Linked DNA regions of Homo sapiens. The protein of the gene in region 3 binds, or shares a complex with, the protein of the main gene of each other region. Links are inferred from orthologs where the notes say so. Each region holds a gene or a part of one and is shown on either strand. Other genes may lie near its edges. The genes, in order: NFKBIB, NFKBIA, RELA and SETD6. A codon is read from its position in the direction of its gene.

What was found.
Region 1: the proteins of RELA (region 3) and NFKBIB are in contact, whole or in part, in a crystal structure (PDB 1K3Z), measured with the Mus musculus proteins. The link is inferred for Homo sapiens from one-to-one orthologs. Residues at the interface, in NP_033071.1 of Mus musculus: Lys218, Lys221, Ser240, Gln241, Ala242, Asp243, Val244, Arg246, Gln247, Asp294, Arg295, Arg297, Ile298, Lys301, Arg302, Arg304, Thr305, Tyr306, Thr308, Phe309, Ile312, Met313, Ser316, Pro317, Phe318, Gly320; in NP_001293151.1 of Mus musculus: Tyr53, Thr55, Glu56, Asp57, Asp59, Ala61, Leu64, Ala65, Ile67, His68, Gln69, His70, Pro72, Phe73, Phe76, Asn91, Leu93, Gln95, Leu100, Ile103, Leu104, Gly105, Arg125, Val137, Arg275, Leu283, Arg284, Asp306, Lys307, Leu308.
Region 2: the proteins of RELA (region 3) and NFKBIA are in contact, whole or in part, in a crystal structure (PDB 1NFI), measured with the Homo sapiens proteins. Residues at the interface, in NP_068810.3 of Homo sapiens: Arg50 (codon at 5,883), His181, Lys221, Ser238, Phe239, Ser240, Gln241, Ala242, Asp243, Arg246, Arg253, Asp294, Arg295, Ile298, Lys301, Arg302, Arg304, Thr305, Tyr306, Thr308, Phe309, Ile312; in NP_065390.1 of Homo sapiens: Thr71 (codon at 4,837), Glu72 (codon at 4,840), Asp73 (codon at 4,843), Asp75 (codon at 4,849), Phe77 (codon at 5,474), Leu80 (codon at 5,483), Ala81 (codon at 5,486), Ile83 (codon at 5,492), His84 (codon at 5,495), Glu85 (codon at 5,498), Glu86 (codon at 5,501), Leu89 (codon at 5,510), Leu110 (codon at 5,573), Gln112 (codon at 5,579), Leu117 (codon at 5,923), Ile120 (codon at 5,932), Thr121 (codon at 5,935), Asn122 (codon at 5,938), Phe142 (codon at 5,998), Arg143 (codon at 6,001), Leu150 (codon at 6,022), Gln154 (codon at 6,034), Arg218 (codon at 6,623), Asp226 (codon at 6,647), Leu227 (codon at 6,650), Gln249 (codon at 6,716), Tyr251 (codon at 6,722), Gln255 (codon at 6,734), Leu256 (codon at 6,737), Trp258 (codon at 6,743).
Region 4: the proteins of RELA (region 3) and SETD6 are in contact, whole or in part, in a crystal structure (PDB 3RC0), measured with the Homo sapiens proteins. Residues at the interface, in NP_068810.3 of Homo sapiens: Glu307, Thr308, Phe309, Lys310, Ser311, Ile312; in NP_001153777.1 of Homo sapiens: Ser120, Trp122, Val220, Met221, Ala222, Tyr223, Ser224, Phe225, Gln226, Glu227, Pro228, Pro238, Asn239, Ser240, Pro241, Asn259, Leu260, Tyr262, Asn283, Thr284, Tyr285, Met288, Met296, Tyr297.

What each region holds. Positions count from the first base shown.
Region 1 is NC_000019.10:38,902,589-38,909,664, forward strand, and holds the end of NFKBIB (NF-kappa-B inhibitor beta), read left to right. Parts: intron 1-2,426; coding exon 2,427-2,532; intron 2,533-2,613; coding exon 2,614-2,947; intron 2,948-4,632; coding exon 4,633-4,721; intron 4,722-4,810; coding exon 4,811-5,071; coding exon of another isoform or gene 5,072-5,119; exon of another isoform or gene 5,120-6,142; coding exon 6,143-6,244; 3' UTR 6,245-6,301; downstream 6,302-7,076. UniProt on the Homo sapiens protein: Inhibits NF-kappa-B by complexing with and trapping it in the cytoplasm.
Region 2 is NC_000014.9:35,401,225-35,409,270, reverse strand, and holds NFKBIA (NF-kappa-B inhibitor alpha), read left to right. Parts: upstream 1-4,521; 5' UTR 4,522-4,626; coding exon 4,627-4,853; intron 4,854-5,472; coding exon 5,473-5,581; intron 5,582-5,910; coding exon 5,911-6,121; intron 6,122-6,411; coding exon 6,412-6,500; intron 6,501-6,607; coding exon 6,608-6,877; intron 6,878-7,210; coding exon 7,211-7,258; 3' UTR 7,259-7,758; downstream 7,759-8,046. UniProt on the Homo sapiens protein: Inhibits the activity of dimeric NF-kappa-B/REL complexes by trapping REL (RELA/p65 and NFKB1/p50) dimers in the cytoplasm by masking their nuclear localization signals.
Region 3 is NC_000011.10:65,659,407-65,667,857, reverse strand, and holds the start of RELA (transcription factor p65), read left to right. Parts: upstream 1-4,941; 5' UTR 4,942-5,025; coding exon 5,026-5,032; intron 5,033-5,280; exon of another isoform or gene 5,281-5,479; intron 5,480-5,510; exon of another isoform or gene 5,511-5,652; coding exon 5,653-5,679; intron 5,680-5,769; coding exon 5,770-5,921; intron 5,922-5,989; coding exon of another isoform or gene 5,990-6,022; coding exon 6,023-6,171; intron 6,172-7,642; coding exon 7,643-7,734; intron 7,735-8,060; coding exon 8,061-8,192; intron 8,193-8,451. UniProt on the Homo sapiens protein: NF-kappa-B is a pleiotropic transcription factor present in almost all cell types and is the endpoint of a series of signal transduction events that are initiated by a vast array of stimuli related to many biological processes such as inflammation, immunity, differentiation, cell growth, tumorigenesis and apoptosis.
Region 4 is NC_000016.10:58,518,064-58,524,544, forward strand, and holds the end of SETD6 (N-lysine methyltransferase SETD6), read left to right. Parts: coding exon 1-168; exon of another isoform or gene 169-169; intron 170-337; coding exon 338-480; intron 481-660; coding exon 661-966; 3' UTR 967-2,894; coding exon of another isoform or gene 2,895-2,973; 3' UTR 2,974-3,119; coding exon of another isoform or gene 3,120-3,254; 3' UTR 3,255-5,306; coding exon of another isoform or gene 5,307-5,439; 3' UTR 5,440-5,779; downstream 5,780-6,481. Other genes in the region: CNOT1 (CCR4-NOT transcription complex subunit 1), read right to left, coding at 2,895-2,973, 3,120-3,254, 5,307-5,439. UniProt on the Homo sapiens protein: Protein-lysine N-methyltransferase. Monomethylates 'Lys-310' of the RELA subunit of NF-kappa-B complex, leading to down-regulation of NF-kappa-B transcription factor activity. Monomethylates 'Lys-8' of H2AZ (H2AZK8me1).

The DNA.
Region 1 (7,076 bases), on a different chromosome or scaffold from region 3:
AGAATGGTCTTTACATTTTTAAACAGTTTCTAAAAATCAAAAGAATAATAATATTATATGGCAAGTGAAAGTGTATGAAATTCATATTTCAAGCTCCATAAATAAAGTTCTTTTGGAACGCAAGCAAGCTCACTCATTTACATATTGTCAGTGGCTGCTTTTGCACTGACACAGCAGAGTCGAGTAGTCAAAAGAAACTGTATGGCTGCTGGGCTCAGTGGCTCATGCCTGTAATCCCAGCACTTTGGGAGCCAAGGCGGACAGATCACAAGGTCAGGAGATCGAGACCATCCTGGCTAACATGGTGAAACCTTGTCTCTACTAAAAATACAAAAAGTTAGCTGGCAGTGGTGGCGAGCGCCTGTAATCCCAGCTACTTGAGAGGCAGGAGAATCGCTTGAACCCGGGAGGCGGAGGTTGCAGTGAGCTGAGATCACGCCACTGCACTCCAGCCTGGGCAGCAGAACGAGACTCCATCTCAAAAAAACAAAACAAACAAACAAAAAAAGAAAAAGAAAAACAAAACCAAAAAGAGAAACCATATGACCTACAAAGACTAAAATAGTTATCTGGCTCCTTACAGAAAAAGTTTGCTGACTCCTGCTGTAGGGTTGATAGTTTACAACTTTAGGTTATCATGGGCTACCTTAAAGTGATATTATGCCATTTCACATAGAGTAAAAGAAATTTATTTTATTTTATTATTATTATTTGAGACGGAGTCTCACTCTGTTGCCCAGGCTGGAGTGCAGTGGCACGATCTCAGCTCACTGCAACCTCCATTTCTCAGGTTCAAATGATTGTCCTGCCTCAGCCTCCTGTGTAGGTGGGATTACAGGCGCATGCCACCATGCCTGGCTAAATTTTTTTTGTATTTTTTGTAGAGACAGGGTCTCATCGTGTTGGCCAGGTTGGTCTCAAACTCCTGACCTCAAGTGATCTGCCCGCCTTGGCCTCCCAAAGTGCCAGGATTACAGGTGTGGGCCACCGTGCCCAGCATAATGAACTGTTTTAATATTCTTGTTTGCAAATTCTAACATCTCTGTCATTTCTGGGTCAGTTTCAATTCACTGATGGTTCCTATTATGGATCATGTTTTCCTGCTTCTTTACATGCCTGATAATCTTTGGTTAGGTGCCAGACATTGTGAATTTTGCCTTGTTAGTCTGGAGAATTCTGTATTCCTATAAATATTCTTGAGGCCGGGCGCCGTGGCTCACACCTGTAATCCCAGCACTTTGGGAGGCCAAGGCGGGTGGATCACGAGGTCAGGAGTTCAAGATCAGCCTGGCCAACATGGTGAAACCCTGTCTGTACTAAAAACTGCAAAAATTAGCCAGGTGTGGTGGCACGCACCTGTGGTTCCGGCTACTCGGGAGGCTGAGGCAGAAGAATCGCTTGAACCCAGGAGGTGGAGGTTGCAGTGAGCCACGATCGTGTCACTGCGCTCCAGCCTGGGCGACAGGGCAAGACTCTCTCTCAAAAAATAAAAATTAAAATAAATAAATAAATAAATAAATAAATAAATATTCTTGAATATTATTCTGGGATGGAGTTAAATTACTCGGAAGTAGTTTGAGTCTTTCCAGTTTTGCTTTTATGATTTGTTAGGTGGGTGTTGAGCAGTGCCCCATCTACAGTTAATTATTCCCCACTATTGAGGCAAGACCTTCCTGAGTATCCCACCCGATAGCCTGTGATGATGTTTTTCCAGCCTGGCTGGTGGGAACACTCACTATTCCTGGCCCTGTGTGAGTAACGAGCACTTTTCTGAAATCCTTTTGGATGGTTTTCCCATCCCCACAGACTCACAGGCATGGCTGATCCGTATTCTCCGGAATACACAAGAGAACCTCCTGCAGTTCCCCAGCAATCTCTCCTTTGGCAACTCTGTTTTGTACTCTGTCCTGTGACTCTAGCCACGCTGGCCTCCACAGACTCTTCCTCCATATCCATCTCCTGACCTCAGACAACCTGATGCGCTCTGCTTGGATTCCCCTCTCTGCACCGTGGCTTTGAAACTCTCTCAAGACAATAAGCTGTGGCAGTCAAGTGTGGGGCCCACCTCGTGTTTCCTGTCTTTCAGGGGTCACTGTGATTCATTGCACGATGTCCAGTGTCTTCAACACTGTTGCTTCATATACCGTATTTCGTCTGACTCTTGTTTGTTTGTTTGTTTGTTTCACGTGGGAGTGAATTCTGGTCCATGTTACTTCATTTTGGGCAGAAGTGGAAATCCCACTGAATAAACATTGATTCCACGAATTTGCTGATGAAACTCTGACCTCTGACCTCCCAGATAGCTGACAGGGGGTTCCAGAACTGTGGTCACAAGGCCTAGCATACAGTAGGCGCCCCATGTTTGTTCAATGAAGGAATGCAAGAGGACTTGAACTTTGCCCTCTCACCCCGGTCTTTGTCCCCAGGGCACTGCACTTGGCTGTGATTCATCAGCATGAACCCTTCCTGGATTTTCTTCTAGGCTTCTCGGCCGGCACTGAGTACATGGACCTGCAGAATGACCTAGGCCAGGTGAGCCACGAGGGATGGTGTAGGGCTTGGGGTCCAGGGTTCCCAGTGTGACTCCCTACCGCCTGTCCTCTGCTTCTGCAGACAGCCCTGCACCTGGCAGCCATCCTGGGGGAGACATCCACGGTGGAGAAGCTGTACGCAGCAGGCGCCGGGCTGTGTGTGGCGGAGCGTAGGGGCCACACGGCGCTGCACCTGGCCTGCCGTGTGGGGGCACACGCCTGTGCCCGTGCCCTGCTTCAGCCCCGCCCCCGGCGCCCCAGGGAAGCCCCCGACACCTACCTCGCTCAGGGCCCTGACCGTACTCCCGACACCAACCATACCCCTGTCGCCTTGTACCCCGATTCCGACTTGGAGAAGGAAGAAGAGGAGAGTGAGGAGGACTGGAAGCTGCAGCTGGAGGCTGAAAACTACGAGGGTGAGGGTCGTCACCAGGGAAGGACTCAGCTCCTGGGCTAGGCGAGAGCACCTGGCCCTGGGCTCAGCTTCCCTGATTTGAGACTGAGCTCCTTGGGAAATCATGCCTAGGCTTCAGGAGCCCACACATCGGGACCAGGGACCTCCACTCAGGGCCCAGATGATTGAGAATTGGATATGTAGGACCCAGGACCCCCACCTGGAGGCCCCAGGTCACTTGGGATGCAGACCTGTCACCCACAGACCCAGAGCTGCCAGGATCCAGTTGTCGGGCCCCCGGGCTCCCCACCTGCAGAGTGTATTGCAGACCCCTACCCTACCCAGGACCGGGGAATGCAGAGCTCAGGCCCTCTGTGAAACTCTGGCACCCCAGGCTCCCAGCAATGGGCAGCAGGGTTCAGAGACAGCCCTCCTCAGCCTCATGGGAAGAAGGGCTCATCTGCCCACAGCCCTGACATCCAAGTTTCTGCTCCCCTGCCTATAAGCCCAGCCACCTGAGACCAGACCCCTCCTCAGATGGACTGACGTCATTCAGGACCCAGTGTTCAGGGCCTGCCTCTCGCCCCCAGGTCACAGGCTTTTCAGCTACTTGGTACCTTTTTTTTTTTTTTTTTTTTTTTTGAGACAGTCTCACTCTGTTGCCAGGTTGGAGTTCAGTGGCGTGATCTTGGCTCACTGCAACCTCCACCTCCCAGGTTCAGGTGATTCTCCTGCCTCAGCCTCCCGAGTAGCTGGGATTACAGGGATTACAGGCACATGCTACCATGCCCAGCTTATTTTTGTATTTTTAGTAGAGACGGGGTTTTACCATGTTGACCAGGCTGGTCTTGAACTCCTGGCCTGGCCTTAGGTGATCTGCCCGCCATGGCCTCCCAAAGTGCTGGGATTACAGGTGTGAGCCACCGTGCCTGGGCAGGAACCTTAATTTAAGGTTTTTTTTTTTTTTTTTTTTTGACATGGAGTCTCACTCTGTTGCCCAGGCTGGAGTGCAGTGGCGCCATCTCAGCTCACTGCAAGCTCCGCCTCCTGGGTTCACACCATTCTCCTGCCTCAGCCTCCCGAGTAGCTGGGACTACAGGCGCCCGCCACCATGCCCAGCTAATTTTTTGTATTTTTAGTAGAGATGGGGTTTCACCATGTTAGCCAGGATGGTCTCGATCTCCTGACCTCGTGATCCACCCGCCTCAGCCTCCCAAAGTGCTGGGATTACAGGCGTGAGCCACTGTGCCTGGCCTTTATTTTTTATTTTTAGTAGAGACGTCTTGCCATGTTGCCCAGGCAGCTTCTTGAACTCCTGAGCTCAAGTGATCCTCTTGCTTTGGCCTCCCAAAGTGCTGGGATTACAGGTGTGAAATAGCGTGCCAGCTCAGGTCCTTTGAGTGATAAGAGCAGAGACTTGGGTCTCCTCCTGGCCCCAAAATCCAGGCTCCCTGTCCACAGACCCCAGGCTGTTTACCCGCGGGCCCCAGGCTTCAAACAACTCAGGCACTAGCACTTGCCAGCAAGCTCAGGCCATCTGAGATAGGCATTTGGTACCCAGGTACCTCTTTGCCATACCCAAGAATTCAGGAACCAGCCCCCAAACCTAATCACCCTCACGCCACATGACCCTCCCCCAGGATCAAAGCACGGTGGGGTGGGGGGGGCCCTCACCTCATCATCTGACGCCAATCACTCTGTCCCCAGGCCACACCCCACTCCACGTGGCCGTTATCCACAAAGATGTGGAGATGGTCCGGCTGCTCCGAGATGCTGGAGCTGACCTTGACAAACCGGTGAGCCCCAACCTCGGGGAAGATGCCGTCGGCGGGAGGGGGCTTGTCCCCTCTTCGGGCCCTCTGACCTTTCTGTTGCACCCCCACAGGAGCCCACGTGCGGCCGGAGCCCCCTTCATTTGGCAGTGGAGGCCCAGGCAGCCGATGTGCTGGAGCTTCTCCTGAGGGCAGGCGCGAACCCTGCTGCCCGCATGTACGGTGGCCGCACCCCACTCGGCAGTGCCATGCTCCGGCCCAACCCCATCCTCGCCCGCCTCCTCCGTGCACACGGAGCCCCTGAGCCCGAGGGCGAGGACGAGAAATCCGGCCCCTGCAGCAGCAGTAGCGACAGCGACAGCGGAGACGAGGGCGTGAGTCAGGAGGAGAGACAGGGCAGCCCAGCTGGGGGGTCAGGATAGACCGGCAGGCAAGAAGCCCAAGAAGATAATTAGGCACCGACCTTGGGCTGCTGTTAGAGAACTCAGGCAGCAGCGCCAGTGACACGGGGCACTAGTCAGGAGAGACCTGGACAGGGGTGGTGGGAAGAGCTTGGGCAGAAGTGGCTGAAAAACTAAGGCAGTGGCAAAGGTAGAACTCAGGCAGGGGTGGAGAAAAGGCGTTGGTCGCAGTGATTGGTGAACACAGCGGGGGTGGGTGGTAGCGCTGGGGGTGATTTTAGGCAGCAAGAATTGGAGAACTCACACTGCGAAAAGAAAACCTTGGGTGGCAGTGATTTGAACACCGGCAGTGCTGGGGCAGGACCCGAGCCAGCGGTGGGGAGAGATATAGTCAGAGAACCCAGCAATACAGATCCGTCCTTGGGCAAGGCGCGGTGCTGGATGATGGGTGCGGAGGAATTTGGGTAAAGGCAGAGGGAAGGGGTGGAGGAGGGCCAGCTCAGTTGCCGAAACTCTGGAGTGGCGGCTGGCTAGAAATTGGTCTGTAGAAATGACCTTGAAAATGGAGTTCTGGCCAGGTGCGGTGGCTCACGCCTGTAATCCCAGCACTTTGGGAGGCCGAGGCAGGCAGATCACGAGGTCAGGAGTTCGAGACCAGCCTGGCCAACATGGCAAGACCCTGTCTCTACTAAAAATACAAAAATTAGCTGGGCGTGGTGGCGCATGCCTATAATCCCAGCTACTTGGGAGGCTGAGGTAGGAGAATTGCTTGAACCTGGGAGGTGGAGGTTGCAGTGAACCTAGATCACGCCACTGCATTCCAGCCTGGGCAACAGAGCGAGACTCCATCTTAAAAAAAAAAAAAAAAAAAAGAAAGAAAAGAAAATGGAGTTCTGAGAGCTAGGAAACTGGGAGGTTGAGCCAGGAGCAGGGGAACTTGGGCTTTGAGGCGAGACCTAATTCTTAGGGTGCTCTATGAGGACATGGGTGGTGGGCAAAGTGACAGCCGCCTGAGCCCCTCTGCCTGGTCCCCTTTGCCCCCAGGATGAATACGACGACATTGTGGTTCACAGCAGCCGCAGCCAAACCCGGCTGCCTCCCACCCCAGCCTCAAAACCTCTTCCTGACGACCCCCGCCCCGTGTGATTTGTTTCATTGTTAATATAATTTCCAGTTTAATAAACAAAACCCTAGTTCTGACAACCAGAGACCAGACTGATCTTGTCTTCCCAGTCCTCCGGGTCCTTCTGGGGCCCATCCCTGTCACATCAAGTGCTGCTCACGGAGGCAGGGTGCGTTTCTTTGTGCTTTATTCACTCAGAAGGGTTGGAGTGGGAGTGCATAGGTGTGGGGGTGCTTCCTGTGTCAGGGCTGAGCCCAGCCCCCGGCCCAGCTCAGACTCACCTCCTTGGGTGTGGTTCCAAGGCACGTCCGCCTCCTCCCCTGTTTGGGTAGGGGTGGCGTGGGGTGCTAGGTGAGGTGGAGGCTTCGGGGTCAACAGTCCTAAGCCACAGGGTGTGTCAGGAGGAAGGAGGGACTGAGGTAGGGGTCAGCCCTCCCTCCTGAGCTGCTCCCCCAGCGTCTCTGTCACCTTCTTCAGTTCGTCTCTCAAGTGCTCCAGCTGCTCCACCTCCTTTTCCTGGTGGGGTCAGAAACGGGGTAGTCAGCACCCACCTTCAAAGGCAGGCCACCTCGGTCACTGTGATTGTGGGCCATGTCGGTTCTCATAGTGGCATCCAGCAGCGGTCGTTCTGATCGTCGTGGACCGCGATGGTGACCATGCTGATTGCCATAACCCCGGAAGAGTGGTGCTGGCTAACGCGACCACAGCCAACAGCAGTAGCTTGGCACTGGCAAAGGTGCCTGGGATGAGCACCTCGTGATGGCGCTTTATTTTTATTTTTAAGATGGAGTCTCGCTCTGTCACCCAGGCTGGGGTACAGTGGCACGATCTCGGCTCACTGTAACCTCCACCTCC
Region 2 (8,046 bases), on a different chromosome or scaffold from region 3:
GAAGTACACACCCTGACCTAAGCTGTTGGAGATCCCACTCCTTTCAGACTCAAATGGTCTGTTTCACTCATCTGTGAAATCTGCCTGCTCCCTATGCGTAAGTATTTTGAGTTTGAGATCCTTTAAAGCTTTGATCTCCATTAAATTGCAGAATTTGTAGCAAAGGAAACACATTAAGGATTTGACGGTCTTATTTTCACTTCACTACAAATGAAGGTTCTGACAGCTGTTTTTCCTTTTTTTTTTTTTTAATTGAGACAGAGTCTCTCTCTGCTGCCCAGGCAGGAGTGCAATGGCACGATCTCAGCTCACTGCAACCTTCACCTCCCAGGGTCAAGTGATTCTCCTGCCTCAGCCTCCCGAGTAGCTGGGATTACAGGCATGTGCCATCACGCCTGGCTAATTTTTGTATTTTGAGTAGAGATGGGGTTTCACCATGTTGGCCGGGCTGGTCTTGAACTCCTGACCTCAGGTGATCAGCTCGCCTCAGCCTCCCAAAGTGCTGGGATTATAGGTCGGAGCCACCGCCCCCAGCCTTGTTTTTCTATGGGAAAAGATCCATAGCTTGGGGGCTCCCTGTTCTGAAGAGGATGCAGACAGTTGCTACCACGATAGCAAGAAAGAAGACAACCTGAGACTGAAAGCAGAATATTTAGAATTTCACAGTGGGGCTGCCAGTTGGGAGTGCACCTGCCTTGCTCTTCAGGAACTCTGTCATGGCTCGTCTTTCTTCCAGCCTAGCTGCACTGAGCAATAGGTAGCCTGATTCCAGAGTTGAATTTGCTGTAGCCAAAACAATTTAGTTTTAATTGGCCAGGCCAGTTGACACAGGCCACCCTGCCCTGAGGATTTTGGACCACCTGGCTGAACTTGTAGACTCTCTCCATGGCACTTCAGGCAATAGGTTTTGTCCATACTGTGCTTGTTCCATGCAGGAGGAGTGCCTGAAGTGCCTGCAGCCAAACCAGGCCCTGGCGATGCTCCTTTTCCCATGGGGGTGCTCCTGGAGCATCACTGGCCGTCCTGTCATTTCCTACGGCTGCGTCCTGGGCCAAAATACAAAGCAGCTTTGAGGTGTAACTTATTATTTTGCCTTATGCATTAAAAAGGCCAAATAACATTAAAAATCAGTTATCTAAAGTATTTTGTTTTGTTTTGTTTTGTTTTTTGAGACAGAGTCTCACCCTGTTGCCCAGGCTGGCGTGCAATGGCGCGATCTCGGCTCACTGCAACCTCTGCCTCCTCGGTTCAAGTGATTCTCCTGCCTCAGCCTCCTAAGCAGCATCTGCACCACCACACCCGACTAATTTTTTGTATCTTTAGTAGAGACGGGGTTTCATCATGTTGGCCAGGCTGGTCTCGAACTCCTGACCTCATGATCCACCTGCCTCAGCCTCCCAAAGTGCTGAGATTATAGGCGTGAGCCACTGCGCACAGCCTACAGTTTTAACATTTTTTTTAACGGTTATGTTAGCTAGAATGTTTGACAATGAGGAGGAGAAAAATCTGAGTGCTGAAGGGTCCATAAAGGTCTTTCTTTTTCTTTTTTTTCTTTTTGAGACAGGGTCTCAGTCTGTTGCTCAAGCTGGAGTGCAGTTGTGCCATCATGGCTCACTACAAACTCCACCTCCCAGGCTCAAGCAATTCTCCCACTTCTGCCTCTGGAGTAGCTGGGACTACAGGCACCTGCCACCACACTCTGCTAATTATATTTTTTGTAGAGACAAGAGTTTAGCCTTGTTGCCCAGGCTGGTCTCCAACTCCTGGGTGGCAAGCAATCCTCCTGCCTCAGCAACCCAAAGTGCTGAAATTACAGCAGTGAGCCACAACTCCTGGCCCATAAAGGTCTTTCTAAATCAAAACCAGACCCTCTTGTTGTCTTCTGCCCAGTCTGCTCATGGTTCTAATTTCCAAGTGTATATTCTTTTTCACCCACGTTGTAATGTTTGTTGACTTAAACCATATAGCGCTATAGATGATGGGGAGAAAACCTGTTGGATCACATTATTCAAAACTGTTTCCCAGAGTCGCAGGAAAACAATAGGTACCTCCTTGGAAATCTCCACTGTAGGGACAAGTCATCAAGGCTCAGCACCTCCCAATTTTTGCAAAAGGCACTATGACAAATCAAGGAACGCCTGTGCCTTACTCTTACCACTAGGTGTCACACAAAACAATCAGGAATAAACACCAAGATCCTGAAGGCTACCAGAAATATAAAACCATAGAAGGTGGTGCAAAAAAACCTTATTCCTCAGATATTTTTATTTTTTATAACCATTTTTATACCTGAAGCCAAATATCTTCTTCTGATGTATCCTCTATAATTGGGACATTTAGAGTTTGATGTTTCTGTACTTGTTTAAAAGAAGTGACTATCCCCAGATGGGGGTCAGGGGACACCCACCCTTTATTTTCCCTAACAGTTGGAGTAGAAAATACTTTTGAGTACATTCCAAATTATAGTGTAGTCAGTCTGATTTTCACAGCGTGTTTTCAAAAGTGTTAATACTAAGACTGCTTTGGCCAAATGATTAATATACTGCCAAGGGGTTCCTGGGTAAATTTCTATGCATTTCAGTTTCTTTTTAGGGAAGTAGGAACAATATCTATCTTACAAGATTAGTTCTGAGAACAATGTGGTACATAAGGCGCTGGAATTCTTTCAAAAATTTATACCCTGACATTTCCAAGAGCCATGGTCACCCTTACAAAGGAGAGTTAGGCATGCATTTGTAGACAAGCAATATGACTTTTAAGCTAGAAAAGACCTTAAGTAACATTCAATCTAATCTTATTATAAAAGTTAAGTATACCACAAAAAAGTTAACTGACCTCTCCAACTAATGTGCAGTCAAGTAAAGATAGAACCTGGAATTGAGATGTCCCATTGCAGTCACTGTTTCACCTTGCCTCAATCATTGTAGATTTGCATATCATAAACCTGCAGAGACAATGGTGTCTATCCCTGGGAAGTTTTCATTGTAACATGTGATCATTATTACCCTGGAGGGTCTATCTGATTTTAATTTTTTTCCCTTCATACTTGGTCTCTCTCTATCGAGTCAGATTTCTTTCATTCTAATATTAGGGGAGGGGTGGAGATACGAAGAGAGGGGAAGGATTGGTTAGTACAAGGCCAGTCAAGGTAAAGATGATTGCAATAATCACCAGAAATCTCTGCAGAACTACAGAGGCCTCCTGGGACTAATTCTGAAGAGCTCTGACCGAAGTTTGCTTTATTTTGCCTGTACCAATTCTACCAAGTAGATGAATTCAGTCCATGGCTTGCAGGCTTGGAGGTGGAGGTGGAGTGGAGAGCATAAATTATATTTCTGCAGGTGAAACCAGAGCATAGTGAGCCGAAACCCCTTTCTACCCAGGTGGCGTGAATGGGTCCAACTGCTACTGTCCCCCAGGACAAGAGAGCAAGGAGGGGCGGGCAGGATGGGACTACCTTGAGCCTCCCGCAGGATGCCTGGCAACTACTTTCTTAGTGGTCCTTAAGGTCCAATCGCGGTTAAGGCACTAACTAAACTCATTCTTCAGCCTCCTTCTCTAAGTTCTCCTCGAATTTGGGTGCCCAGAAGTAGGCTCACGATCCTTTTTCTGCGGGAGCACAATGTAGGTCAGATAGCATAAACGAATAGCTACTTATGAACACAATAGCTACTCTGCTATTGCAAGGTATCCACAACCACCACTACAAACATTAACACCTTGCTTTACTTGGGAAACAAAAAAAATCATGGTCCTATTCAGCAGTTTCCCCATACAGGGAGCGTTTGCCCCTCCCCCAGTCAACAGGGCTGTTCATCCCTAGGAAGTGATTTGAGAGTTCTCCAAGGATTTAGGCTTTTCACTCCTCCAAAGCTTTCACAACTTCTACCTGGCGGGGGTGCGTGGGGGGGTGGGGGCGAAGCTAAAAGTTCCTTTGCTGCAAAGAGCCTGGTATAGGCAGAAACACCGGCGCGGCCTGCAGCCCCCTAACCACAGTGCGTCCTTCCCCTTAGAAGTCTGGGGAAAGCAAATCCCTACGCCCAGCCATCATTTCCACTCTTGCGTTTTCAAAAGATCAAAAAACGGAAAGGACCGGCAGGTTGGCAAACCCCAAAGAGGGACCGCCCATCAGGTCGGCGTCCTTGGGATCTCAGCAGCCGACGACCCCAATTCAAATCGATCGTGGGAAACCCCAGGGAAAGAAGGCTCACTTGCAGAGGGACAGGATTACAGGGTGCAGGCTGCAGGGAAGTACCGGGGGGAGGGGGCCTGGTCGGAAGGACTTTCCAGCCACTCGGCGCTCATCAAAAAGTTCCCTGTCCGTGACCCTAGTGGCTCATCGCAGGGAGTTTCTCCGATGAACCCCAGCTCAGGGTTTAGGCTTCTTTTTCCCCCTAGCAGAGGACGAAGCCAGTTCTCTTTTTCTGGTCTGACTGGCTTGGAAATTCCCCGAGCCTGACCCCGCCCCAGAGAAATCCCCAGCCAGCGTTTATAGGGCGCCGCGGCGGCGCTGCAGAGCCCACAGCAGTCCGTGCCGCCGTCCCGCCCGCCAGCGCCCCAGCGAGGAAGCAGCGCGCAGCCCGCGGCCCAGCGCACCCGCAGCAGCGCCCGCAGCTCGTCCGCGCCATGTTCCAGGCGGCCGAGCGCCCCCAGGAGTGGGCCATGGAGGGCCCCCGCGACGGGCTGAAGAAGGAGCGGCTACTGGACGACCGCCACGACAGCGGCCTGGACTCCATGAAAGACGAGGAGTACGAGCAGATGGTCAAGGAGCTGCAGGAGATCCGCCTCGAGCCGCAGGAGGTGCCGCGCGGCTCGGAGCCCTGGAAGCAGCAGCTCACCGAGGACGGGGACTCGTAAGTGGCGGAGGCCCGGGGCTGGGGGTCGTCGGGAGGGCGGGACGCGCGCGGCCTGGGGGTGGGAGGCGCCGGGCCTGGAGCCCGAGCCGGGGGACCAGCGATGCAGCCGGGCGGGCGCCGCGGCACCCCGGGGCTCCTGCACCGCCCCGAACGCTGCAGGGCTGCAGGGCCGCGCGGGGCACCGGCCCAACTCGGAGGGGCGGCGGCTGGGCCCTGGTGGATGGCAGCGTCGCCACACGCCCCCTCCCCCCAGACCCGTCCTCTAGGCCGGGGGCGGGGCGGCAGCGGGGACGCGAAGTCCCCGGTTGCATAAGGCGGGGCGGGAGTTTCTGGCCGCTGGCGGGCGCCGAGCAGCCGGGAGGGGAAGTACAGGGCGTTCCGAGCTGGCGGGAGGGCGGGGCGGTCTGGCCGGCGCCCGCCGGGGCCGCGGGGGGAGGGGGGCGGAAAGTCCCTGGGCGCCTGCCAGGAACACTCAGCTCATAATAACCTCGCGGAAAACACCGCGGCCTCGGCCTCCAGAAACCCCGGCCTTGCGCAATCCCCCGCAGCCCGCGCCTCCCTGGGCCCCACGCGGTGCACTCACCACCCCTGGGGTTTTTCCCTCTCTTCCCCACAGGTTCCTGCACTTGGCCATCATCCATGAAGAAAAGGCACTGACCATGGAAGTGATCCGCCAGGTGAAGGGAGACCTGGCCTTCCTCAACTTCCAGAACAACCTGCAGCAGGTGCGCCGCTTGCCTGGCCCGGGTTCTCTCTGACCCTGGGACGTAGCTGATGTAGCAGAGTCACCCCAGATCCTTTCTGAATTCAGGGCCACTGAGCACTATTTACCCTCACCTTTTACTTCACATCAGCCCACATCCTAGAGAGTGAAGGAAATTCCACTGATTTGGTGAGGTCTTTATGACCCACCTGGAGCCTCTGCTATTTGCCAGCCCTCCCCACCCCCCTGTCTAGGAGGAGCAGCACCCAACCAGGAGACACGGGTTGAGGGGAACTCGGGGTGTGGGTTTGGTCCATGGCTTACTTTCTCTGGTCTCTCTTGCATTCGTAGACTCCACTCCACTTGGCTGTGATCACCAACCAGCCAGAAATTGCTGAGGCACTTCTGGGAGCTGGCTGTGATCCTGAGCTCCGAGACTTTCGAGGAAATACCCCCCTACACCTTGCCTGTGAGCAGGGCTGCCTGGCCAGCGTGGGAGTCCTGACTCAGTCCTGCACCACCCCGCACCTCCACTCCATCCTGAAGGCTACCAACTACAATGGTATGTCTGCCTCCCTGCCCTGCCCCACCCCCTCGGAGGGCAGGTGACGTGGAGAAGGGGCAGGTGGGCCAACTTAAGGAGTCCAGGCAAGAGCTTAAACTCCTAACATTTGGAAGGTTGAGAAAATATGTGTGCAAAGTGCCTATTGGATGCCTTTATAAAGTTCTTTCAGAACCCAGACTGTGGGTTCTTAAAATTCAGAAGATAAGACTACTTGTTCCATAAAAGAATAGGTGAAAGGAGTGAGGGTTGAAACAGGTGGTTATACTTTTTTCCTTTTGTTCTTCCAGGCCACACGTGTCTACACTTAGCCTCTATCCATGGCTACCTGGGCATCGTGGAGCTTTTGGTGTCCTTGGGTGCTGATGTCAATGCTCAGGTTGGTGCTTCCTGCCCCCGACGCACTGAGTCAGGCTCCTCGTGCTTATGTTGTGAGCAGAAATTCCAAATGCAGCCATAAGCATCTCAAATTCCTTTTGGTTTCAGGAGCCCTGTAATGGCCGGACTGCCCTTCACCTCGCAGTGGACCTGCAAAATCCTGACCTGGTGTCACTCCTGTTGAAGTGTGGGGCTGATGTCAACAGAGTTACCTACCAGGGCTATTCTCCCTACCAGCTCACCTGGGGCCGCCCAAGCACCCGGATACAGCAGCAGCTGGGCCAGCTGACACTAGAAAACCTTCAGATGCTGCCAGAGAGTGAGGATGAGGAGAGCTATGACACAGAGTCAGAGTTCACGGAGTTCACAGAGGACGAGGTGAGTCTGTGAACTCCTTCGGCGCTCTAACTAATGAGGTGCCATTCCCTTCACCCTCCCAGGCCCCTAGAGCTGCTCCTTATCAGAGGGGTATCTACATAATGAGTCTCTCAAATTTCTGTGCATAACCAGTATCCCAAGAATGTACCTGCCCCCCCTCTTTTTTTAAAGAGAAGCATTAAAGGCAAACTCTCTCAGCCTGTAAAGTTCATTATATTTGGGCTATGGAGAATGGAGTCCAAGAGTTATTTCCAGTAGTGGCCTCCCCATCCCGGTAGCTTGGCAGAGCTCCGCTCCGGAAGCTTAACGTGTCTTTTTTCCCCTTGTTTTCAGCTGCCCTATGATGACTGTGTGTTTGGAGGCCAGCGTCTGACGTTATGAGCGCAAAGGGGCTGAAAGAACATGGACTTGTATATTTGTACAAAAAAAAAGTTTTATTTTTCTAAAAAAAGAAAAAAGAAGAAAAAATTTAAAGGGTGTACTTATATCCACACTGCACACTGCCTGGCCCAAAACGTCTTATTGTGGTAGGATCAGCCCTCATTTTGTTGCTTTTGTGAACTTTTTGTAGGGGACGAGAAAGATCATTGAAATTCTGAGAAAACTTCTTTTAAACCTCACCTTTGTGGGGTTTTTGGAGAAGGTTATCAAAAATTTCATGGAAGGACCACATTTTATATTTATTGTGCTTCGAGTGACTGACCCCAGTGGTATCCTGTGACATGTAACAGCCAGGAGTGTTAAGCGTTCAGTGATGTGGGGTGAAAAGTTACTACCTGTCAAGGTTTGTGTTACCCTCCTGTAAATGGTGTACATAATGTATTGTTGGTAATTATTTTGGTACTTTTATGATGTATATTTATTAAACAGATTTTTACAAATGAGTTATCCTGATCATTTTCTTCAGGCTGCCGTGGGCCTCCGGTTCTGAAGTTCCATCCTCCGGCAGAGGTGGAGGTGGAGCAGTGTGAGGGAGGAGGTAACTCCCAGCAGCTTCTCACACCTGACACCCAGCCTCCAGCAAAGCTTTGCAGGCACCCTGGGCCCAGTGTGTGGGAGGGAGGCTGTTGCAAGGTTATAGGAAATTACCAATCTCAGGCTTGGGGTGGAAGCATGCTGTTTGGCCTGTGGTTGGAGACCTCTCCGTTGTCATTCTGTCATCCCGTTGA
Region 3 (8,451 bases):
GGCGGGCAGGTCACTTGAGGTCAGGAGTTGGAGACCAGCCTGACCAACATGGAGAAACCCTGTCTTTACTAACAATACAAAATTAGCCGGGCGTGGTAGCGCATGCCTGTAATCCCAGCAACTCGGGAGGCTGAGGCAGGAGAATCACTTGAACCCGGGAGGCGGAGGTTGCAGTGAGCCAAGATCATGCCATTGCACTCCAGCCTGGGCAACAAGAGTGAAACTCTGTCTCAAAAAAAAAAAAAAAAAAAAAAAGTACTAACTATTCACCGAAAACATCTACAATGACTGACTCAGTAGCAATAAGTATCCGAAGTACTCAAGCTGTAGTCTTTAAATATCATTTCCTACTAAGAGAAATCAGGACTCCTTGGAAAGCTGTCTGATTCCAGATCTGGGGCAGAAAATTTACTAGATGAGTCTAGAAATATCTTTTCAGGCCAGGCGCTGTGGCTCATGCCTGTAATCCCAGCACTGTGGGAGGCCAAGGCAGGTGGATCACCTGAGGTCAGGAGTTCGAGACCAACCTGACCAATATGGAAACCCCATCTCTACTAAAAATACAAAAATTAGCTGGGCGTGGTGGCACACTCCCATAATCCCAGCTACTTGGGAGGCTGAGGCAGGAGAATTGCTTGCACCCGGGAGGCAGAGGTTGCAGTGAGCCGAGATTGCACCATTGCACTCCAGCCTGGGCAGTAAGAGCGAAACTCCATCTCAAAAAAAAAAAAGGAAAAAGAAAAGAAATATCTTTTCATACCAAACAGCAAAGAAGCTATCACAGGCTACTGTAATTGCTTTTTTAAAATTATTTTTTTAATAGACATAGGGATCTTGCCATGTTGACCAGGCTGGTCTTAAACTCCTGGCCTCAATCAGTCTTCCCCATTCAGCCTTCCAAAGTGCTGGGATTACAGGTATGAGCCACCAAGACTCATATATTGGAATTGTGTCAAAAGGACTGAAGAACAACCAACTTGAAGAAGTTCTCCCTAACCAAAGACGAATAATTTGAATTTCAATAACTATACTTGATTAAAACACAGCTAATATATTTAAATCCATGCATTCATTAAGATTTTAAAAAACTCAGCCGGGTTTGGTAGTTCATGCCTGTAATCCTAACACTTTGGGAGGCTGAGACAGAAGGATCGCCTGAGCTCAGAGGTTCGAGACCAGCCTTGGCAACATAGCAAGATCTTGTGTCTACTAAAAATTAAAAAAAAGAAATTAGCTGAGTGTGGTGGTGCACGCTGTTAGTCCTAGCTACTTGGGAGGCTAAGGTGGGAGGATTGCTTGAGCCCAGGAGTTTGAGGCTGCAGTGAGCAACGAGTCATGCCACAGCATTCCAGCATGGCGACAGAGTGAGACCCTGCCTCAAAAAATTGTTTTCTTTTTAATTAGCTGTGTGTGGTGGTGAGTGCTTATAGTCCCAGCTACCTGGGAGGCCGAGGTAAGAGGATCCCAACTGATAGGGGCGTTGGTGGGAGAAAAAGTAGGTTTACTGATTTATTCTGAAAGCCAGCAAGACTGAGAGGACGGTGTACTAGCGTTCTAAAGTACCATTTTAAGTCAGTACAATCTTAGGCTCTTTCTATGTTAAGGGCAGGGAAGAGAAGGAGGGTGTGGTCAAGAAGTACCCCATGGCAGACATCTGGGCAGCAGCGAGGGTCTGAGGAGGTTGGGAACTTCTTTGTCCTTGGTCCAGTCACAATGCTCCTATAAATCTTTAAGAAAACATAGTTGTTTACATACTTCTTTAACCCCAGACTAAGTTTTAAAAACTACATGATTGCTGTTTTTATATATTACTCAGTGCTCTAAAGCTTATGGCAGCAAAAAATTAGAAGTCCAAATGCCCATGGCTGGGCACGGTAGCTCACGCCTGTAATAGCACTTTAGGAGGCCGAGACGGGCAGATCACCTGAGGTCAGGAGTTAGAGACCACCCTGGCCAACATGGTGAAACCCTGTCTCTACTAAAAGTACAAAATTAGTCAGATGCAGTGGTTCATGCCTGTAATCCCAACATTTTCAGAGGCTGAGGCAGGTGGATCACCTAAGGTCAGGAGTTTGAGACCAGCCTGGCCAACATGGTGAAACCCCGTCTCTACTAAAAATACAAAAAGTTAGCCAGGCATGGTGGCAGGCACCTGTAATCCCAGCTACTCAGGTGGCTGAGGCAGGAGAATCACTTGAACCTGGGAGGCAGAGGTTGCTGTGAGCCGAGATTGTGCCATTGCACACAACAAGAGCGAAACTCTGTCTCAAAAGAAAAAAAAAATACAAAATTAGCCGGGCATGGTGATGCATACCTGTAATCCTAGCTACTCAGGAGGCTAAGGCAGGAGAATCACTTGAACCTGGGAGGCAGAGGTTGCAGTGAGCCGAGATGGTGCTATTGCACTCCAGCCTGGGCCACAAGAGAGGAACTCCATCTCAAAAAAATAAAAATAAAAATGCCTATCTTCAGGATGAATAAACAAACTGTGGTATATTTACACAACAAAATAGTATACAGCAGTGAAAAAGTGAATTAACTGTGAAACATGAATCATAGTAACAGGTTGAGTGAAAAAAGCAAGTAACAAAGGACAACAAATCATATGATGCCCTCTTCATAAAAGTTCAAAACTGGCTGGGTGCGGTGGCTCACACCTGTAATCTCAGCACTTTGGGAGGCAGAGGCTGGCGAATCACCTGAGGTCAGGAGTTCGAGACCAGCCTGGCCAACATGGTGAAACCCCGTCTCTACTAAAAAAATACAAAAATTAGCTGGGCGTGGTGGTTGGCCCCTTTAATCCCAGCTACTCAGGAGGCTGAGGCAGGAGAATCGCTTGAACCTAGGAGGCAGAGGTTGCAGTAAGCAGAATGCCACTGCATTCCAGCCTGCGCGACAGAGTGAGACTTTGTCTCAAAAAAAAAAAAAAAAAAGTTCAAAACTAAGGAAAACCAAAAGATATATTGTGTAGGCATGCAGATATAACTTTTTTTTTCTTTAAAATACAGAATTCTGGGCCAGGTGTGGTGGCTCATGCCTGTAATCCCACTTTGGGAGGCTGAGGTGGGAGGATCGCTTGAGCCCAGGAGTTTGAGACCAGCCTGGGCAACACAGTGAGACCCATCTCTATTTACAATAAATTAATTAATTAATTAATTTAAAAAATACAGAATTCTGGCCCAGCGTGGTGGCTCACGCCTGTAATCCCAGCACTTTGTGAGGCCAAGCGGGGAGGAAAGTTGAGCTCAGGAGTTCAAGACTAGCCTGGACAACAAGGTTAAACCACTTCTTTACAAAAAATACAAAAACTTAGCCGGGCATGGTGGTGTGCTCCCGTAGTCCCAGCTATGCAAGAGGCTGAAGTGGGAGGATTGCTTGAGCCCAGGAGGTAGAGGCTGCAGTGAGCAGAGATTGTGCCACTGCACTCCAGCCTGGGCGACAGAGACAGACCGTGTCTCAAAAAATAAATAAATAAATAAATACAATACAATACAATACAATACAATACAATACAATACAATACAATACAGAATTCTGGATGGTGGTGGCCCCTTGAGTTTTGCAATGGGTACATGGGTGTTTATCGTATTAATTTAAAAGTTATAAATATACATGAATTTTAAGAAGAGGATCCATGCAAGGTTCAATGATAATTGTATATCATTAACCAAAGATTTTAATTAATCCATTCTGTCACCTGAAGTCGGCCTCCCCCGCCCCCTGCCAAAAGTAAACACTTTTCTAATCAGGGCCAGCCACTGGAGAAACTGAAATGAGTGGGCGGGGTGCTAACTCTATTTTCACTTTTCTCTTCCTGTTTCTTCAGAGCCTGGGAAACAAGTCAGAATTTCCAATCTTTTCCAATTCCCACATGATTTCCTAATTTAAGACGAATTCAGAGAAAATAAAAAAGTCTTTCTCCATCTGGAGAAGACTCCGCCCCCTGCAGTGGAGCATCCTCCTTTGGGGATGAGGCCTGGGGTGGGGGTGCGTCAGCCCCAGCCTCCACACGGACGCGCCTTGGGCTTGGTCTTGGGGGAGCTACCTGCACTGTGGGGTCACATGACAGAATTAGTGGTCAGCCCTAGCTGGAGGTCCAGGGCAAACACAGGCGGGGGCAGGGGGGTGGGGGGTCGTGAGCCTGCTGATTCAAGTGTCCCTGTGGGTCCCGCACCTTCTGAGACACAAGCGCCAGGCTTCAGAGACGAGGCTCCGGGATTTACCCCTGGGGGCCTCCTGCTCCCACAGCCGATGAGAGCCGGCAGTTTGGCTGTATCGTAAGCTGGCGCTTTAGCTGGAGAGGGACGAGCCCTCGGCCAGCTCGCCAGCGGGAGGGCCTCAGTCGTCCCATCCGGGCTGTAGGCTCCGCAAAGCTCTTGATGCACTGTCAGGCTGGGAGGTCCGGCCGCTCCCATTCCCCCACAGCCGCATCTAGATTGGGGTGGGTAGGACATTTTAACGTGCTTCTGAGACAGCCACCACCGAAAGGCACCTTTAGCGGTTAGGAAACCCGCGCGGAGTTCAACCACCCGGCCTCTGCGGAGCAGAAGGCCCGGTCGGGCTTTTCCCTGCGCGGGGCGGGCGGCCGCAGCCCAGTAGCCCTGGCTTTGCTCCAGACCCGGCCCAGAGTGACATCACCAAACTCCGCCGATCGGCGGGAGGGGGCCCTGAAATCCCCTAAAAACAAAGTGAGTAATCGGCGGACCCACCCTCCAGGCGGGGCCGGGACCCGGGAGCTAGCCGAGCCACCGGGCACGCCAGCCTCTTCGTCCTCGGCGAGGCGCGCACTTGGCCCCGACCCCCGGCAGCGGCTGTGCGTGCAGCCTCTTCGTCCTCCGCGCGGCGTGCACTTGCTCCCGGCCCCTGCGCCGGGCGGCGGCGGGGCAGCGCGCAGGCGCGGCCGGATTCCGGGCAGTGACGCGACGGCGGGCCGCGCGGCGCATTTCCGCCTCTGGCGAATGGCTCGTCTGTAGTGCACGCCGCGGGCCCAGCTGCGACCCCGGCCCCGCCCCCGGGACCCCGGCCATGGACGGTGAGGTCGCCCTCTGACCCCGCGGGGTGGCATCGCCGGGGCCGCCGCGGCTGTGGCGGGAGCCCCCGCGCCGCTTTCCGCCCCTTCCTGCGCCGACGGGCGCTGCGCAGGGAGCGGTCGGCCTGCCGGATGGTGGCGCGGGGCGGGGCAGGCGGGGAGGGGTCTGACTCAGTTTCCCCTCTGGGTGGAGGGGGTGGCCCTTGACTCAGCATCCTCCCTGGGTGGGGGAGCAGAGGGAACCTTGACTCAGTTTCCCTCCACACCGTCCATGGGGGCAGCTCTGGCTTCGTTTCCCTATTAGGGGAGAACGCATCTGATTCAGTTTCCTCTCTGGAGGGAGGTGGGGCGTGCCCTCCCTCAATTTTCCTTAAGAAAGTACAACAGGCCCTGATTCAGCTTCCCTCTGGAGAAGAAGGATTCCTTACCCCGTTTTCCCTCAAGAAGCAGGTGTTTCTGGTTCCTTTCCTCCACCCCTTAGTTTCACCGCAGGTTCTAGGGAGCAGGTCCTGACTCAGTTCCCCTGGGAGGGAGCCTGGCTTCTCCTCTCCGTGGAGAGCAGATTCCTCCTTGTGAGAATGGGCATTGGGTGTGTGCTGACCCTGATCTCCCTCCCCTTTCAGAACTGTTCCCCCTCATCTTCCCGGCAGGTAAGTGGCCCCCGCGGCGGTCGGGGAGGTGCTCCCTGGGGTAGGGCAGTGGGGGCAGCCGCCTAATGGGGCTGCGGTGTCCCCTGGCAGAGCCAGCCCAGGCCTCTGGCCCCTATGTGGAGATCATTGAGCAGCCCAAGCAGCGGGGCATGCGCTTCCGCTACAAGTGCGAGGGGCGCTCCGCGGGCAGCATCCCAGGCGAGAGGAGCACAGATACCACCAAGACCCACCCCACCATCAAGGTCAGCACTGCGCCAGGGTGTGCGGGGAAGGGACTGTGGAACCCCAGCCCTCTGTGTTTGGGAGTCAGGTTTGGATGTCTGGGCCTCTGTACTTTGGACAGATCAATGGCTACACAGGACCAGGGACAGTGCGCATCTCCCTGGTCACCAAGGACCCTCCTCACCGGCCTCACCCCCACGAGCTTGTAGGAAAGGACTGCCGGGATGGCTTCTATGAGGCTGAGCTCTGCCCGGACCGCTGCATCCACAGGTGAGGTCCCTGCAGGCTAGGAGGCCCAGCATGAGGGGACAGGAGGCGGGCTATGAAGTAGCCGCTACAGTGTTACTCCTTTCTGGACCCAGGGCAGAATTCCTCACTCCTTGCCCTGACTCAGCTCTGCAAGTAAACTGCCTTTGTCTTGAAATTATCTATTTGTACGTTTACTCTAGCAGATGAGTTCCAGGGGATACGGATGGGTCCCTAATCACTTCTGAATTCCTGACCCCTGTAGCTGGAAGGACAAGTCCCTCAGAGTCACGTCTCTTGTTTGAGGAAGAAAACCATTGAACCAGCACTCTCCCCTGGAGTTGACATTGCAGTTGACAGAGACAGGCTGTAAAAAAATATACAGGCCGGGCATAGTGGCTCATGCTTATAATCCTAGCACTTCGGGAGGCCAAGGCAGGAAGATCTCTTGAGCCTAGGAATTCAAGACTAGCCAAGGCAACATAGTGAGACCCCATGTCTACAAAAAATAAGAAATTAGCTGGGTATGGTGGCATGCGCCTATAGTCCCAGGGAGGCTGAGGTGGGAGGATCGCCTGAGCCCAGGAGGTCACTGCTGCGGCAAGCTATGATTGCACCACTGCACTTGGGTGGCAGGGCGATACCTTGTCTTTTTTTTTTTTTTTTTTTTTTTAAGAAAGAGTCTTGCTCTGTCCCCAGACTGGAGTGCAGTGGCGCGATCTCAGCTCACTGCAACCTCCACCTTCCGGGTTCATGCCATTCTCCTGCCTCAGCTTCCCGAATAGCTGGGACTACAGGTGCCTGCCACCACGCCTGGCTAATTTTTTGTATTTTTTAGTAGAGACAGGGTTTCACCGTGTTAGCCAGGATGGTCTCAATCTCCTGACCTTGTGATCTGCCTGTCTTGGCCTCCCAAAGTGCTGGGATTACAGGCTTGAGCCACCGCACCCGGCCCGACACTGTGTCTCTTAAAAATAAATAAATACACAGATAAATAAACAAGGTGCTGTCAGAGTAACAGTTTCAGTCCTGAAAATAAAACGAGGTCATAGGATAGAAGGATAACCTGGGGTGGGGGAGTTAGGGGAGCTGGTGTGTGATGACTTTAGATTGGGAGGTCAGGGAAGGCCTCCCTCAGCTAAGACTTGAATGGTGAGAAGGAGGAGAGAAGTAGGAAAAGAACATTCCAAGCCGACCAAACAAGTGCAAAGGCCTTGAGGTGGGAATGAGTGTCCTGTGTTTAGAGAGTGGAAAAGGAGCCCCGGTGGCTGTAAGCAGGGAGCCCACAGGGAGGCTGGCAGGGGCAGGGGCACGGAGGTGCTTGTCAGCTGAGTGAAGGGACAGGGTTCGTTGCAGCACAGTAGGAAGCCACTGGAGAGGGTTAGGCATGGAGCGATGATCTAGGGGTGGGCAGAGTAGGAAGGAGCAGGCTGGGCAAGGCAGGAAGGTCTGGGCTCTGTGAGAGACAGTGGGACAGACGACTGGGGGCGCTCAGTTTCCAGAACCTGGGAATCCAGTGTGTGAAGAAGCGGGACCTGGAGCAGGCTATCAGTCAGCGCATCCAGACCAACAACAACCCCTTCCAAGGTGAGGGCAAACCTGCCTGCCACACCCGCACCCTCTGTCACCCTCCCCAGCCCGCCTTTCCTGCATCTCCCTCACTGGCCAAGACACAGTAAAGCTGGAATCTTGGTGCCCATTCAGTACTCTCCCACTTTACCACTGGGAAACTGAGTCCCAGGAGGGGACATGACATTCAGGCCACAGTGGAGTCAGTGCTGGGTTCTGCCTCCTCTAGGACTTGTGTTTCACACACGCACCAGCGGCCCTCCCAGCGCAGAGCTCCCTGCCCCCACTGATAGCACCTATATCCCCACTTCCCCTGCTCTCCTGATCGCCTGTTTTCTTGGCAGTTCCTATAGAAGAGCAGCGTGGGGACTACGACCTGAATGCTGTGCGGCTCTGCTTCCAGGTGACAGTGCGGGACCCATCAGGCAGGCCCCTCCGCCTGCCGCCTGTCCTTTCTCATCCCATCTTTGACAATCGTGAGTAGCGAGGGAGACGCAGGAAGGGGAGAGGGTGGGCCTGAATAGGAGGAAGGGGGTTGGGGTGAGTGTGGCCTGCAAGAGGCGCTCTGGCTTCATTCAATCATCTTGCGTATTTGTCTACTCTTCTCTGCCCAGCTCTTTGTTGGCTGGGGAGAGAGGGCAAAGAAGACCCAGAGCTGTCCTTGAGGTGTAGCTCTGGCCTGGCAGGAAGTCTAGCAGAGAGTCTGATGGGAGATGGGCATTTTCAGTATTGTGT
Region 4 (6,481 bases), on a different chromosome or scaffold from region 3:
TGGTAGCCACTCAGCCCATTCCTAAAGGCCATGAGATTTTCAACACTTATGGGCAAATGGCTAACTGGCAACTGATTCATATGTACGGTTTTGTTGAACCATATCCTGACAACACAGATGACACAGCTGACATTCAGATGGTGACAGTTCGTGAGGCAGCATTACAGGGTGAGTGTATCATTAACTCAATATTTGACACTGATGGTGTGTCTATACCCATGCCTCAGGTTAAATAGCTTTGCTAAATAGCAGTTGACTTTGTAGACTGGGTGGCAGACTAAAGAAGAAATGAACCCTTGGGTGTACTGAGACTTTCACATTGCTGTTTCATCTACAGGAACAAAAACTGAAGCTGAAAGGCACCTAGTGTACGAGCGCTGGGATTTCCTATGCAAACTGGAGATGGTAGGGGAAGAGGGAGCCTTTGTGATAGGGAGGGAGGAGGTGCTGACTGAAGAGGAGCTGACCACCACACTAAAGGTAAACGGCTGAAAATGGCCATTTAATGCTGATAATCTAAGTATTTAAAGCAAAATAGCTAGAAGATGAGAGAGGAAATGTGGGATTTTTAATAAATGCTAAGATGAGTTTAGTCTCCTGAGTCATTTCAGAAGTACAAAAGCAGTACATCTAATTAAAGAGCTCTGTGGTTGCTTCTAGGTACTGTGCATGCCTGCTGAGGAGTTCAGAGAGCTTAAAGACCAGGATGGAGGGGGAGATGATAAAAGGGAAGAGGGCAGCCTGACGATCACAAATATTCCCAAGCTCAAAGCATCGTGGAGACAGCTGCTTCAAAACAGTGTTCTACTGACTTTGCAGACCTATGCCACAGACTTAAAAACTGACCAAGGTTTACTCAGTAATAAGGAAGTCTATGCGAAACTCAGCTGGAGGGAACAGCAAGCCTTACAGGTTCGCTATGGTCAGAAGATGATCTTACATCAGTTGTTGGAGCTGACAAGTTAGCAGTTTCCCTGTTCCCTGAAGGAACAGCAATAAGAACTTTATTCTAAGCTAATACTCATTGATGTTTGAAAAAGAGGAAAATTTGGATCTTTCTTTTGCTTACTAAACACCAAGAGGAAAAGTAGCAAAGTTGGTGTGCTAGGATTAACTCAGGTAAGGGTGATGTGTTTTAGGATTGAGAACAGCAGACTTGGGAATCACTGCTAATTGTTACTTAAAGCATGTTACAGATGTTTTGTTCTCAGTTTTAACCAAAGCCAGTGGACATACGGTAGTAATAAGTAAGTCTTGTTGTGTTTCAGCATTTAATAATAGACTTTGGAGGTAGACCCCTGGTTTAAATCTAAGTCTAGTTTGAGGAAGTCACTTAACCTTTATTGAAAAGACTCTGGATTTAATAAGCTGTGTAACTGGTACTCGATAGTTACCCAAAGTTCAGTCTAGATGGCACAAACCACCTCTCAGGGAATAAACCCTAAGACATCACTCAAGGAGGACTTCAATTATTTAATTTTGAACTGTTTTGTCCTCTCTGGCCATAAAACTTGACAGTCATGAAAGGTAAGGCAAATTTTAAGTGGGTTAAGTTTTTAAATACGTATCTACTCATTTTCTTTAAAAAAAAAAAAAAAATACCTGGGGGAAAAGGATATTAAAACTGGGTATTTTAAACTCAGCTTAACCAGATAAACCTGCTCCAGCATTTGTCCAGTGTTGAAATAAATAGGAAGAAAAATACAATTTCCTTAAACATGCCAGCTTAGTAGTAGGAATGACCTATCAATCAATCAATCAATCATTCAGCAAGAAGTTAGTTGGTGGTTCCCCATGGCCCCAAGGTCTGCAGGGCTGGATTGTCCACTTTTCCTCCTCACCACCAGCACTGGCTGCTGCTACTGAGAAAGGCACAGTGGACTCATGTGTGTGTCATGACTTTAATGGTTAGCTACAGTATGCATACACATACAAGAAGTAGGGGAGCTGAAGCCCAGGAAAAGGCTACAAAATACAACACAGGGACCAATACATTTGCAAAACATTCAAAATCCTTATAAAAGGGGCTGTATTGGTCCTTTCAACTTTGTCATTATTCAGCTTAGCCTGTATGGCCATTCATTCAGTGGGGTAATGGGGGAGAACAATTAATTAATGAGATTTGGTTCCCTTTCCTATATTCCCACTGTTTTTAAGTTTCAGGAGAGGATTGGGGGGGTGAGGGTAGGGGTGGGCTTTAGGCCTGGTCTGGTTTCCCTTTATATAAAGAGCTGACCCCCATCTCAGGCGGCTGAGGTGTATAATCCCCAAAAGAAATAAGATGGTACAAATGCAGTCAGCTTTGGAATACGTTTGGGTAGAGACAAAATGGAAACTCATGGGATTCCAATAGTGAGCCCTTCCCATGTTCCTGGACATATCCAATTCTAGCACATCCACATTTTTAATAACTTAGTGATTTTCAAGGTCCCCTGTCCACATTAAAAAAATAAGTTACATAATATTCAAACTGGCTTTTTGCTATTCTTTGGGACACCAGGAATGTCAGAAGACATGGAGCTATGCCCTCAGACAAGTGCATGGCATCAGCTGCCTCTTCATTACAAGGTACCAGTTTATGTACTTGCCTTGGACACAGCTTGCACAAAGCCAAGAAGTTCCAGACAAAGGTTTTCTCTTTCATGTATTTACACAAGTTCAAAATGATATTCACAGCATCTTCTAAATTTTGGCCAAGAGTCAAAAAAATGCATTTAAACTTTGGAACGTGCCCACATAAGACAGGAGGCTGATCCCAACAGTAGTTGGGGCAGATACCCACAAACCAAAGGGCTGGGAAAGTCAGGAAGAGCTGAAAGGATTCTTCAGTCAGTTTATGAACTCGGTGCAGTGAGACCTCTAGACTGACACGTACAACAGAGATGCAGTTTCGTCTAACTGGCACCTGTCCCTTCCATTACTTGCTGGGCCTGCTTCTGTCCCATGCAGCACTGTGCGACCGACTGGAATAACCTGAAGGATGAAGACAGTTACAAATCTCTGATTAAAGAGTAGGCCTAACAATACCTTGCATCTCATTCAGCTGACCCAACCTAGAGACAGATGGTTTTCAGTCTCCAGTCTCATTCCTAGACAATTAAAAATTACTTTGAACTCACTTTTCGATTTCTGGGGCACAGTGTACAAATTCATGGTTCCAGAACTTAAACGCTGGGTTTTTAATCAGCTCAATGAAGGTAATAAGAAGACCCCAAGGATGTGGCCTATTTACAATCAACCGTTCCAAGAGAACTCTGGAAAAAGGGAGAAAGAGCTAGTTAATGTATAGAAGCATACAAATTCATGATTATTCTTCCATTACTTTTTTTCTAACTTCTCCCTGACTATTGAACCACATGCAAAAGTTTTCACCTTTAGTAAAGACAGGTGGATTAATATACTCCAAATAGCACAGGTTGGAATACCTGGGTTTGAACCCTGCTCTTAGCCGTAGAAGACTAAGTATTTATATAAAGTGCAGATAATGGTATCTACCTCACAGCTGTTCAGAATAAGGGGTGATGGGGGAGAGGAAGCCACATAAAGCCCAGAGTACATGGCACACAAAGTTAGTACAAAAAGTAGTAATTTCCAGAATGAGCTCCCAGGCCGGGCACAGTGGCTCATGCCTGTAATCCAGCACTTTGGGAGGCCGAGGCAGGTGGATCACCTGAGGTCAGGAGTTCGAGACCAGCCTGGCCAACATGGTGAAACCCCATCTCTGCTACAAATATAAAAATTAGTCAGACATGGTGGCCACATGCCTGTAATCCCAGCAGTCGGACGCTGAGGCAGGAGAATCGCTTGAACCCAGTAGGTGGAGGTTGTGGTGAGCCGAGATGGTGCCACTGCACTCCAGCCTGGGAGACAGAGTGAGACCCTGTCTCAAATAAACAGATAAATTAAATAAATAAATAAGCTCACTCTCAATAAAAAGGAAACAGAAAATAAGAATTAAGTATTCTAACACTGCAGGCTGGGCACAGTGACTCACGCCTGTAATCCCAGCACTCTGGGAGGCCAAGACGGGTGGATCACGAGGTCGGGAGTTCAAGACCAGCCTGGCCAAGATGGTGAAACCCCGTCTCTACTAAAAATACAAAAAATTAGCCGGACGTGGTGGCAGGTGCCTGTAATCCCAGCTACTCAGGAGGCGACAAAGCGAGACTGTCTCAAAAAAAAAAAAAAAAAAAAAAAAAAAAAAGCTAACATTGCTAGTTCACATGTAAATTGGTAAAATTTTTCCGAATGCCAGTAAGCATTGGCTTAACTTTATATCCTTTCACGTACCAACTGTACATGAAGCATAACAAAGATTACAAGTCCAAGGAGACTTACTGCAGCTTTATATAAACAAAATGGATCATCATCATCTAAGCATCCAATAAGATATTAAATTTTAGTACACAAATCAAAGGAATACCATATTTAGCACCATAGGTGACTAATTAGGCAAATGAGCAAGTTTTAAGAGTCTGGCCCAATTTTTAAAGTGTGTGTGTGTGTGTATCACAATCTCTCTAATGCTATATGTAGTCTAGGCAATCTGGCAACAGATTCCTAACTATTGTTAGGAAAATGCAAGTATGATCCTGTTATTGCTACTGCTTTCAACCCAGAGGTAATGAGGAAAAGTCCAAGTTCCTTAACATAGACTTCATAGGCCTGCATGATTTAGGACTGGTTATCACCACCACCTCAGAGAAACTCCTGACCTTTAATCAAAATGTGCCTTGTGGTAAACTACTTTTCATTTAAGCCATGATTGCGATTTATAATTCCCTATCTTGTGATAAATGTCCATCAGAATGAGTATTAAGAGGGCAGGAACCATCCATTTTGCTCACAATTGTATCCCACATTTAACACATTATTGGACATGTAAAAGATTTTCACTGAAGGCCGGGTGCAGTGGCTCACGCCTGTAATCCCAGCACTTTGGGAGGCTGAGGCGGGTGGATCACTTGAGGTCAGGAGTTCAAGATCAGCCTGGCCAACATGGTGAAACCCCGTCTCTACTAAAATACAAAAATTAGCTGGGCGTGGTGGCAGGCGCCTGTAATCCCAGCTACTTGAGAGGCTAAGGCACGAGAATCGCTTGAACCTGGGAGGCGGAGGTTGCAGTGAGCCAAGATGGCGCCACTGTACTGCAGACTGAGTGACAGAGCAACACTCCGTCTCAAAAAAACAAAAAAAAAACCAACCAAACGGATTTTCACTGAACACTGAAAGCATAAAGAGGAAAAAAAAAAGATGAAAGGGAGGAGATCCTTTTGAAGCATTTAAAAAATAAGCTGCTCGCTTACCTTGTGATCTGTTCTTGGATGGCTTCCGTATTGGCCTCTGCAAAAAGGTACAGCATGGTGCAACTGAAGTAGTGAGTGTGGCTATTTGGGTACCGGAGCTGATTTGCAATTGCATTCAAAAAGAGATAGCGACCTAGAAATTAAGAAACCTTGACTTAGGACTTAGTCTGAAAGGCCAACATGGGAAGACAGTTCTAACTGGCTAGGGTTTGGGTTTCTGACAGAGGCTTTCAAATTAATCTTTGGTTTAAAGCAGTGGTTCTTGGGACCCCAAAGAGTTCTCATTTCTGTGCGTTTTATTTCAGAATTTTCCACATTAGAAATTAGATTTTAAAAATATTCATTTTTAAAAACAGACCCACTATGTGCTAATGTAAGAAACATGAACTATTTTCTGGTGACACTCATCACTAAGTCTTTCTACATTTTGCAGATCTCTAAGTCTTGCTTAATAAAAGACAGCTGGATTCTCATTTCTGCTTCTGTGTTCAACTTGTTACAGTATATTTCATGTAACCTCTGAGAAATTCAACTGTACACTCATGACAGAATAGACCCAAAAATGTAAATGTTGTTTTATGATGAAAACAGTTTTGGGCCGGGCACGGTGGCTCACGCCTGTAATCCCAGCACTTTGGGAGGCTGAGGCAAGTGGATCACTTGAGGTCAGGGGTTCAAGACCAGCGTGGCCAACATGGTGAAACCCCATCTCTACTAAAAATACATAAAAATTAGCTGGGCATGGTGGCGTGTGCCTGTAATCCCAGCTCCTCGGGAGGCTGAGGCAGGAGAATCGCTTGAACCCCTGAGGCGGAAGTTATGGTGAGCCGATATTGCGCCACTGCCTTCTAGCCTGGGTGTGAGAGCAAGACTCTATCGCAAAAAAAAAAAAAAAAAAAAGTTTTGACCTCACAGCCCTCCTAAAAAGGTCTTGACACCCTAAGGGTACCCAGCCCACATTTTGATTAGTCTAAACTACACTGGAATAAGTATTATCTTAATTGGGTTTGGTTGTTTGCCTCTGCTTGACATTATTCGTGTTTGTGAGTCTGTCACAGTGACACGTTTCTCTAAAGGCTGCCGTCCTTTTATTGCCGAGCTCTTGGACGTGATGGTATTCAATTTTGTTATATCTTGAATTTAAGCTGTCTTAAATCCATCCCACATATAGGCAT